Homo sapiens: one gene and its partners. The protein of the gene in region 1 interacts with the protein of each later gene in a pairwise test. Each region holds a gene or a part of one and is shown in the gene's direction. Other genes may lie near its edges.

Region 1 (3,654 bases):
AGGCTGCAGGTGCACTAGGCCGTCCACTCTCTCTCTCTCTCAGGCTGCAGGTGCACCAGGCCGTCCACTCACTCTCTCTCTCGGGCTGCAGGTACACCAGGCCGTCCACTCTCTCTCTCTCTCTCTCTCTCGGGCTGCAGGTGCACCAGGCCGTCCACTCTCTCTCTCTCTCTCAGGCTGTAGGTGCACCAGGCCGTCCACTCTCTCTCTTTCTCGGGCTGCAGGTGCACCAGGCCGTCCACTCTCTCTCTTTCTCGGGCTGCAGGTGCACCAGGCCGTCCAGGGAGCCCGGGCCTGCCGGGTATGCCAGGCCGCAGCGTCAGCATCGGCTACCTCCTGGTGAAGCACAGCCAGACGGACCAGGAGCCCATGTGCCCAGTGGGCATGAACAAACTCTGGAGTGGATACAGCCTGCTGTACTTCGAGGGCCAGGAGAAGGCGCACAACCAGGACCTGGGTAGGTACCTCCCACCCGGCCCCCGTTGCCTGCTCAGGGCTGGCCCGGAAGTGGCCAAGATCAAAGGGCCACAGCGAGACTCCCAAACCCTCCACGGCTGGTAAGTTCCCCTGACGGAAGGGTCCATCTACATTCCTCGAGTGCAGAAAGATTAAAACGGCCTTTGAAGCAGAAGCCTTACAAAGCCCTTAAACCTCAGGACCTTAACACAGGGACCTGCCTTTTAACCTGGTATTGACTTCCGCAGGCTCCCATGTGACCCGTCTGACCCCCGACCCCTCTCCAGTGGAGACCACCAATTACTTCACCTCCTTCTTGTTTTTGACCCAAGTTCTGTAGACTTGGAGTCAGGCAGGGGCCATGAGGGGCTGGGGTTCATGTAAGACTCTCCCATACAGCCCCCCGAGGAAAATGGACCCATGGACACGTGTGCATGCTCTTATTTAAGGAAGCCTTTGAAAGGCATTAACGCGACTTCGAATACAGAAAATGCAATACACACAAATTACAAGTGGAGGTAGCTTAGTCTGAGGTCCTCTTTGAGGGGGTGACGGGAAGGGTCTCTGGGATACTGGCTGTGTTCTGCCTCCTCGGTGCAGGTTACATCAGGCGTTCTGCCCCCGGGAAGCATGTTGCTGGCTCATGGTGCCTTCACATTCCTGCCTGTGCGCCCCGCCTCCACAATGAGTTTCTAAAGAACAACGGGGCAAAGGCCGCCAAGGATAAGGGCCAAAAATAGATCTAGGAACAGGGCCAAGGAGGCAGCCTAGCACCGGGCATGTTTGCTAAAGGTGGCTGCACTTCTGGGTCTGAGCTTTTCAGCAATCCATGTGAAGAGGGAAACCTGCTTAGCTGCAGCATTCGTTGTGGCCAGGAGATAAAGGCTATCTTAGTCTCCAGAAGCAATAAAGCTACATGGAAGGGAGAAGGGCCAGGACTCCTTCTGGGGTGGCTCCTTGGGGTCAAAGAGCGACCCCTTGGAGGCCATCAGAGTTTTCTTGGGGCCAGTGCTGTTAAGACCCCACTAAGGTAAGGCTCACCCAAAATGCTATTCCATGAAGACGCCACTCCCTGGTGATCCAACTTGGCCCAGTATGTGTGAGAACTTGTAGAAGAACAGAGCTGTTCCAAAATGCCAGTGGAGTCTGATCAAAAAGAGAAAAAGAAAGAAATTGGGAAGCCTTAGCCTGGCCCTCCAGTAGGTGGCTAAACTCCACCAGGTGCCCTGGGGCGAGTCCGTGACACACAGCCTCCTGGGCCTGGCTGGGGCTGGCAGGTGCGTCTTCTAGCCACACTGCACTGTGATCTCATGACCCCTCCTTCCACAGGGCTGGCGGGCTCCTGCCTGGCGCGGTTCAGCACCATGCCCTTCCTGTACTGCAACCCTGGTGATGTCTGCTACTATGCCAGCCGGAACGACAAGTCCTACTGGCTCTCTACCACTGCGCCGCTGCCCATGATGCCCGTGGCCGAGGACGAGATCAAGCCCTACATCAGCCGCTGTTCTGTGTGTGAGGCCCCGGCCATCGCCATCGCGGTCCACAGTCAGGATGTCTCCATCCCACACTGCCCAGCTGGGTGGCGGAGTTTGTGGATCGGATATTCCTTCCTCATGGTATGTGGTATTTGCCCAGTTCCCCTCCCCAACCACACCCTGCTGGGGACACAGCAAGAACAGCTGCCTTTGTGAGAAGAATCAGACACGGCAGTCCAGGGTGTGCACTGCACAAGGGTAGTTGGCCCAGGAAGCGAGCGAGAGCTGGAACACAGCTTACACTTGGCTAACTGAGCCACATGCTGGGCACAGGGCTTCCTCCACCCAGAAAGGGCTCATTAATTTGCCACCAGGCCTTTGTAAGGAGTGTAACCAGGACGAACTTGCCTGTTATCCGTCTTACTAGGTACAACACCAACACCAAAGGTGCAGCTGCTTTGGGTTTACCAGAAGTCTAAATATATGGGAGACTTTTCTCTAGAATCCTGATCTTATTTAGAATCTATCTGGAACCTAGAATACCCTGAAGAAATACCTATTAACTGGCTGGCTTAAAATGGATATATATTCGTGAGGAAAATTCTGGAATACCTTTGGGTATAAAATAGAGAGCCTGTGGATACTTTGAAAGCCAGGAGAAGGTGCACAACCAGGACCTGGGAAGGCACCGCCCACCCTTCCGGATCGCCTTTGGGTATAAAATAGAGAACCCTCAGCTTTGGCCAGATTAGGTTTAGCTTAACCTCCAGGGGAGAGACCACAGCACCATAGTGTCTCTTGCAATATTGCCTATTAAAGCAGAGGCTCCTCAACTTGGAATAGGGTCCCGTCCCGATAAATTCATTGTAAGATGAAGATACTATAAGTTGAAAGTGCGTTTTCAATTTATGATGGGTTTATCTGGATGTAACCCCACCAAAAATCAAATAGTGAATTGAATACATATTGCTTTTGCACCATCGAAAACTCAAAAATCCTAAGTCTAACCATGGTAAATCAGGGACCATCTGTATACTATTGTAGGGAGAAAAGAAAGTCTCACTGAGGACAGTGGGTCTTCCAGTGAGTTTATTTATATGCATTATAACTGTCATAACTCCAGCTATATGGATTGGATGCCCAGCATGTTAAATATTTCATAAATTATATATATATATATATATATATATACACACACACACACACACACACACACAACATAAAATATAAATTACATAGTGATTGCTAATCTTTCAAAACAACAGGAAAAAAAATCCGGATTCTAGGAAAGGAAGGAAAAGATAAACAAGTATTGGCATTTTAATAGGTATCGTTGCTATGATAAGTTGGAGCAACAGGATGCTAAATCCTGGGCAGGGACAGGCACAATTTCTACCTTTCCAGAAGCTTATCATGGAAGGTGACTTTGGAGCAACCTTCTTTTGTTTCACAGTGACCTTCAGGGTGCCCCTGTGTCAGGAAGTAAGCTTTGGTTGCTCCTGTTTTTTTCACTCCCGTTGTTAAATTCAAAATAAATGAGCCTCTCCCTTGTGAAGGGCATGATTACACAGTATCCAGAAAGGTCAGGCATCCCCTGTTCCATTAGCATCAGGTTTCAAATGACTGTCACGAGATAAGCAGACATTATCCTCTGCACACGTAACTCTCTGCTTACATAAATGGCTGACAGCCCCAGCAAGCCTGGAACTTGACATCCCCAAAA
Region 2 (3,654 bases), on another chromosome or scaffold:
AGGAAATGGTTACAGGAAACATCCTTGTTTTCTTCTGATCCTATTTCAATATCAGACATGATATCTCTAGTTTTCTTGGTAGATAACCTTTATCAGATTTGAGTAAGTTTCCTTGTATTCTTAGTTTCTGGCAAGTTGTAATTATGCATCAGTCTTGAATTTTGTCAAATGAATATTCTGTATTTGTTGAGGTAATCCTTTGTTGATTTTGTCCCTCTGTTCTGTTTATGTGGTGAATTAAATAGCTTGATTTGTTTTGTGGTTTTCTTTTTTGCTTAACAGAAGTTTATCGTCTCAGAGTTCTGGAGGCAACACATTTGAAATCACGGTGTTGTCATTGCCATTCTCCCTCTGAGGGTGCTGAGGGAAGGATCTGTTCCAGGCCTCTCTCCTAGCTTCTGGTAGTTGCTTGGCTTGTGGTACCATAACTTCAATTGTCACATGGCATTCTCCCAGTGTGCATGTCTGTCTGTGTCCAGATTTTCCCCTTTTTATAAGGACACCAATTGTATTGGATTAGGGCTCACTTTAGTACCCTTATATTACCTTGATTACCACTGTAAAGGCCCTATCCGAATAAGGTCACATTCTGAGGTACTGGGGCTTAAGACTAATATCTTTCTGGGGATGTGGGGTGTGGGATGCTGCACAATTCAGTCAGTAACATCCTGGTACCAGACATTCAGTTTAGGCAAAACTCGTAATTGTACACTCTGCTGGGCATGAAATAAAGTCAGAATGCATCATGGCTTGTTCATGGTCAACACTGCTTGATTTTTGAATGTGAAATCAGCCTTGTATTTTTCTAAGCGAGCTTCACTTGGTCAGAATTCATTACCTTTTTAAGAAACCTACTTCTAAATAAGTCATAGATGAAAGAAGAAATCATGATGGAAATTAGAAAATATTTTAACAGAATAATGTAAATGACACATTAAAATGTGAGATGCAACTAAAGCAGCTCTTAGAGGGAAATTTATAGCTTTATATGCACACATTACAAAAGAAGAAAGATTGAAAATAACACTTAAGCTTGAATCTCAAGGAAAAGGATGACATGTTAAGCTCTTTCCAAGAAAAAGTAAGTGAAAAGAGATAATAAATATTAGAGTAAATAATTAAAACAAGAAAGCAGATATAAAACCAAGAAATATCAGCCAAGTAAAGGTTCATACTTTAATAAGTGAATAGAATTGATAAAACTGTAGCACAACTTACCAAAAAAAGAGAATACACACACACACACACACACACACACACACACACACACACACACAACCTTTGTATTTATTTTGAAATTTTTTTGTAGTGGCATTACTGAGATAAAACCACATATCTACTATTCACCCACTTAAAGTACAATTCAGTTATTTTTAGTATATTCACAGAGCTGTATAATCATCACCATAATCAATGTTAGAACATTTTCATAACCCTGTAAAGAAATCCTGTACCCTTTAGCAGCTACTCCTCATTTTCTCCAGAATCTTCCAACCCTAGGTAGTCACTGATTTACTTTCTGTCTCTAGATTTGCCTACTCTGGACATTTCATATAAATTGAATCATTCAGTATGTGGCCTTTTGTGACTGGCTTCTCTCACTCAGCATATTTTTAAGGTTTATGCATGTAGTAGCATGTTCAGTACTTCATTCCCCTTTGTGGTTGAATGATATTCTGTTGTAGGGGTATGGCACATTTTATTTATCCATTCATCAGTTATGGAACATTTAGGTTGTTTCCAGTTTTGGGCCATTATGAGTAGTGCCTCTATAGAGCATTTGTGTACAAGTTTTTGTGTGGACATATGTTTTCATTTCTCTTGGGAAATGAATGGAATGGAATCACTGGGTCATATGACAACTCTGTACTTCACATATTGTGGAACTGCCTGTTTTCCAAAGCAGCTGCACCTATTTGCAATCCCACTATCATTGTATGAAAGTTCCAGTTTTTTCACATCCTTGCCAACACTCATTATTCTCGTTGATTGTAGCCGTCCTGTCGTGTGTGCAGTGTTATTTCATTGTGGTTTTGACTTGCGTTTCCCTGATGTCTCATGATGTTTATTGCTTATGGACTTTTGGCTTAGGGGTCTCTTTCTGGAAATGTCTGTTCAAGTCCTTTGACCATTTTTAAATTGGGTGATTTATTATTGAATTATAGCAGTTCTTAGATATTCTAGATATAAAAGTCTGTATTCTATATAAATATATATTCTGTATTCTAGATATGAAATTCTAGATTCGAGATAAAAGTCTTATCAGGCATATGATTTGCAAATATTTTCTCCCATTGTTGTGAATTTTCTTTCTTGATGGTAATCTTTTGTTAATATGTTTATAGTTCTGCCAATCTAAGTATGCTTGGTTGCAAATGTAATCTTTCCTTACATGTTTCTTAATTCTTCCTCCTTTTTCCTTTATCTCTATACCTGTTATTTCCCTACTGTTGTTCTTACACTTTTATTTTTCTTTCTCATTTTCTTCAGGTACTTTTTTTTTTTTTTTTTTTTTTTTACTTTATCTACCTTTTTTTTGCTTAAACATCTCCATACTCTGTGAATTCCATATTGGAAAAAAAAACTTGTCCCTTTTCCCCCTAATACTTTCTAGTTGATTTTCTAGTAGACTATGGCCATTTTTGATTTTGTATTACACAGATGCAGTAAATATGATAATTAGTATACAACAAGCAGTAGGTTTTCTATGTCTTAAACATTACATGAAATGTGCTGCTTGCATCTCTTCTAAGATCAATTTGTATTAAGTCTACAATTAGGTGGCTTCTGTTTCAGTTATTAAACTCTCTTTCTCTTTTTTCTTAAAGATTCAGAATGGACAGTTTAGAAGAACCTCAGAAAAAAGTCTTTAAGGCTCGAAAAACGATGAGAGTGAGTGATCGTCAGCAACTTGAAGCAGTGTACAAGGTCAAAGAAGAACTGTTGAAAACTGATGTCAAGCTGTTAAATGGCAACCATGAAAATGGAGATTTGGACCCAACCTCACCTTTGGAAAACATGGATTACATTAAAGACAAGGAAGAGGTGAATGGCATTGAAGAGATTTGTTTTGATCCTGAAGGAAGTAAAGCAGAATGGAAGGAAACACCCTGTATCCTAAGTGTTAATGTAAAAAACAAGCAGGATGATGATTTAAATTGTGAACCTTTGTCTCCCCATAATATAACTCCAGAACCAGTCTCTAAACTGCCTGCTGAACCAGTTTCTGGTGATCCAGCCCCTGGTGATCTGGATGCCGGAGATCCAGCCTCCGGAGTACTGGCCTCTGGTGATTCCACCTCTGGTGATCCCACCTCTAGCGAGCCCTCCTCTAGTGATGCTGCCTCTGGTGATGCAACCTCTGGTGATGCCCCTTCTGGTGATGTGTCCCCTGGTGATGCCACCTCTGGTGATGCCACTGCTGATGATCTCTCCTCTGGTGATCCCACCTCTAGTGATCCCATCCCAGGTGAACCGGTCCCTGTTGAACCCATTTCTGGTGATTGTGCCGCTGATGATATAGCCTCTAGTGAAATAACTTCTGTTGATCTGGCTTCTGGAGCACCAGCTTCCACTGATCCAGCCTCTGATGATCTGGCCTCTGGTGATCTATCCTCTAGTGAACTGGCCTCTGATGATCTGGCCACTGGTGAA
Region 3 (3,654 bases), on another chromosome or scaffold:
ACCAGCCCTGTGTAGCCATGGAGGGAGGCACACTCAGCGTTGCTAGATACTCCAGCCCTTCAAGTAAAGCCAGAAACTTGGGTTCTATGTGAAATTGCCCAAAGGTTCAAAATTTAGGAGTTAGTTTTAAAAAATGTTAACTGCTGTATGAGCCAGTAAAACATGGATGTAAGCAAAATCCATCCCATGAATCACTGGTTCTTTTTCTTTTTTTTAATGCCCTTGAGTCATAATATCACTGCATCTTAACCTTTGTGTTAGAATGTTTAAAATAATTAACGGCTTGGCTAGACCCAGAGATAAATTGCAGTGGATTTGTAGTTCTTAGACTTGGAGTACGTTTTATAAATGTGCTACTAAGTTCCACCTTGTTGATAGCTATACTACTCTGAGGACTAAGAGCTGAGCCATAAGTAAGAATTGTGCGTTTCAGTTTTTGTTTGTTTGTTTGTTTGTGTTTTTGAGATGGAGTCTCGCTGTGCGCCCAGGCTGGAGTGCAGTGGTGTGATCTCAGCTCACTGCAACTTATGCCTCCTGGGTTCAAGTGATTCTCCTGCCTCAGCCTCCCGAGTAGCTAGGATTTCAGGTGCCCGCCACTGTGCCTGGCTGATTTTTTGTATTTTTAGTAGAGACGGAATTTCACCATGTTGGCCAGGCTTGTCTCAAACTCCTGACCTCAAATGATCTGCCCTCCTTGGCCTCCCAAAGTGCTGGGATTATAGGCATGAGCCATTGCGCCTGGCCACATTTCAGTTTTTTGTTTTTGTTTTTGTTTTTGTTTTTGAGATGGAGTCTCGCTCTGTCACCAGGCTAGAGTGCAGTGGTGTGATCTCGACTCACTGCAACCTCCGTCTCCTGGGGTTCAAGCGATTCTCCTGCCTCAGCCTCCTGAGTAGCTGGGATTACAGGTACGTGCCACCACGCCCAGCTAGGTTTTGTATTTTTAGTAGAGATGGGGTTTCACAATGTTGGCCAGGATGGCCTCAATCTCCTGACCTCGTGATCCGCCCACCTCGGCCTCCCAAAGCGCTGGGATTACAGGCATGAGCCACTTAGCCCAGCCCACATTTTGGTTTTATACTCATAACTGTGGGGCTGCTATCTAACCCTGGGAGAATAGGAAGAGGGGTCTATACAAGTTTATGATAATATGTATCCTTATGCAAAGTGATTATATAGCTCTCGTGAATTTATCATAGGAGAGATGAGAATTATGGATATGTTCCCAAGTCCCTATGTATTAAACAGGACTGTAGTAACTATTTCAGTCAGTGTAGGCTAATTGCTAAAACAGACAACTCCCAAATCTCAGTGACTTAACACGATGAAAAAACAAATGTATTTCTTTCTTCAGTTTCCTGGACGTCAGTGGAGGATAGGGGGTGGGTGGGACGAGGCTTTGTTTCATGCAGTGTTTTGGGTTTCCAGGCTCCTTCCTTATTCTGATCCTACCATCCTTTAGCACTTTGGAGTCCTCCACTGGATCCTCTGCTTATGGGTGGCAGATGAAGGAAGAGAGAGAGCATGGAGGATTTGCCAGAGGTTTTTAGGGGACAGGTTTAGAAAGTGGTGTATCTCACTTTTGTCTATGTTCATTTACTGATATTCATTCATGTGGTTCGACCTAACTGCAAGGGGGTCTGGGAAGTGTAGTCTGTATAGCTTTGTGGCCTGGGGAGAAAGAGTTCAGTGAACATGCAACAATCTCTGCCACTCTGCATATTGCTGCTCTGAACCATGAAGTCCAAAATGTCACATCCGGTGTGTGATGTGATATACAGGTTACCTTTTTTATTTTTAAATATTATGTAACAGATCCAGATGTGTTGCAAGAAAGCCTCAAATTCCTCTGTTTAGGATATAGAGGAGGATCTTTCTCATATTTGTAGATGCTGGGAAAATGAAGGAACTGATGAGTTTTTTTTTTTTCTTAAAACCTTGAGGTTTGTAAAGAATCCTGTTCTGACTCCCAAATAGAGAAGCAGACCCCTCTTGCCTGACTCAAGTAGAATTAAATTTAACTGAATTCTGACAAACAAGTGTCCTTACAAACTGGTATACTGATAAACTAGTATAAGATACCAGGATTTCTAATGGGACTTTTAAAAAGTAAAAGAATGAGGTAGACCTTAATAATAACCTCTGTTTGTTCCTTATTTTTAGATGGGTCATATTTCTCTATGATCGTATTTGTTTAAAAATTATTCTGATTTTTCAGCCTGCAGGTCAGGAGTCATCTTTTCCCCCTTCTGGTCAGTATCCTTATCCTAGTGGCTTTCCTCCAATGGGAGGAGGTGCCTACCCACAAGTGCCAAGTAGTGGCTACCCAGGAGCTGGAGGCTACCCTGCGCCTGGAGGTTATCCAGCCCCTGGAGGCTATCCTGGTGCCCCACAGCCAGGGGGAGCTCCATCCTATCCCGGAGGTGAGTTACGGGTTGCGGAATTAGTAATGATTGGGATTGCTGTAGCACTTTTTCCTTCTCCCTTTATCCTCTTCATTCCTGCTTGTTTTGTATAAGGTCAAGTCGCTCTTAGGTAACCTTAGGTAGTAAGGACCTAGCTGGCAAGATGGAGGGATGAAGATTCTCTGGGGACATGAAAGCTGGGAGCAGTTTCAAAAATTCCACTGTGAAGGGACTTGGAATAAATTTCATGGCAATAAAGGACCAATATGTAACACTTTGCTTGTTTGTAGTCTTAAGACCTGATTAAGACATTTCAATTAGCAAGACTGTGACCTTTAGGTCAGCTTTATTCAAAGGTAAAAAAGACCCCAAAAAACAACAAAAAAACCTTAGCCCTTTTGTATTTTAAGTTAGTAGGGAAGAGTAATAAAGTAATATTTTGGCTGGGTGTGGTGTCTCACACCTGTAATCCCGACACTTTGGGAGGTTGAGGTGGGTGGATCACTTGAAGCAAGGAGTTCGAGACCAGCTTGGCCAACATGGTGAAACCCTGTCTCTACTAAAAATATGAAAATTAGCTGGGTGTGGTGGTGCATGCCTGTAATCCCACCTACCTGGGAGGCTGAGGCAGGAAAATCACTTGAACGTGGTAGGTAGAGTTTGCAGTGAGCCAAGATTGTGCCACTAAACTCCAGCCTAGGCAACAGAGTGAGACTGTCTCAAAAAATAAATAAATATATAAGGTAAAAATTTAAAAACTTATTTTTTACTGGAGAATTTGAAGTTTTGAATCTAGATAAACAGGGACTGCTATTATAGCATTAATAGCATATTTTTCCACTGTTAACAATAGATATTTTTCTAAAGTTTTTTCTGCAATCATGAGAACTGTACTATAGTTTATTGACATGTTCTTTTCTCTAGTTCCTCCAGGCCAAGGATTTGGAGTCCCACCAGGTGGAGCAGGCTTTTCTGGGTATCCACAGCCACCTTCACAGTCTTATGGAGGTGGTCCAGCACAGGTTCCACTACCTGGTAGGTACCAGCTGTCCAGAAAAAAACAGTATCATGATATTTTGAGTTTTTAAATCACCATTGAGGGAACTTAGTTTATATTTGAGATAATCTGCAATAAATGTTTATATTTCCATAAATAATTTTAAACATAATGGTTTTATGAAATATATTAAATTGATGGAAAAGTTTAATCAGTAAAATAGAGATAAAGTCACACTTTTTCTATTAAAAA

Evidence for each region.
Region 2: the proteins of COL4A2 (region 1) and ATF7IP interact in a two-hybrid assay, tested with the Homo sapiens proteins (one large-scale study listed by IntAct).
Region 3: the proteins of COL4A2 (region 1) and ANXA7 interact in a two-hybrid assay, tested with the Homo sapiens proteins (one large-scale study listed by BioGRID and IntAct).

Annotation. Positions count from the first base shown.
Region 1 is NC_000013.11:110,506,150-110,509,803, forward strand, and holds part of COL4A2 (collagen alpha-2(IV) chain preproprotein), read left to right. Parts: intron 1-265; coding exon 266-457; intron 458-1,497; exon of another isoform or gene 1,498-1,602; intron 1,603-1,785; coding exon 1,786-2,072; intron 2,073-3,654. UniProt on the Homo sapiens protein: Type IV collagen is the major structural component of glomerular basement membranes (GBM), forming a 'chicken-wire' meshwork together with laminins, proteoglycans and entactin/nidogen.
Region 2 is NC_000012.12:14,421,081-14,424,734, forward strand, and holds part of ATF7IP (activating transcription factor 7-interacting protein 1), read left to right. Parts: intron 1-2,828; coding exon of another isoform or gene 2,829-2,835; coding exon 2,836-3,654. UniProt on the Homo sapiens protein: Recruiter that couples transcriptional factors to general transcription apparatus and thereby modulates transcription regulation and chromatin formation. Can both act as an activator or a repressor depending on the context.
Region 3 is NC_000010.11:73,396,950-73,400,603, reverse strand, and holds part of ANXA7 (annexin A7), read left to right. Parts: intron 1-2,218; coding exon 2,219-2,423; intron 2,424-3,329; coding exon 3,330-3,440; intron 3,441-3,654. UniProt on the Homo sapiens protein: Calcium/phospholipid-binding protein which promotes membrane fusion and is involved in exocytosis.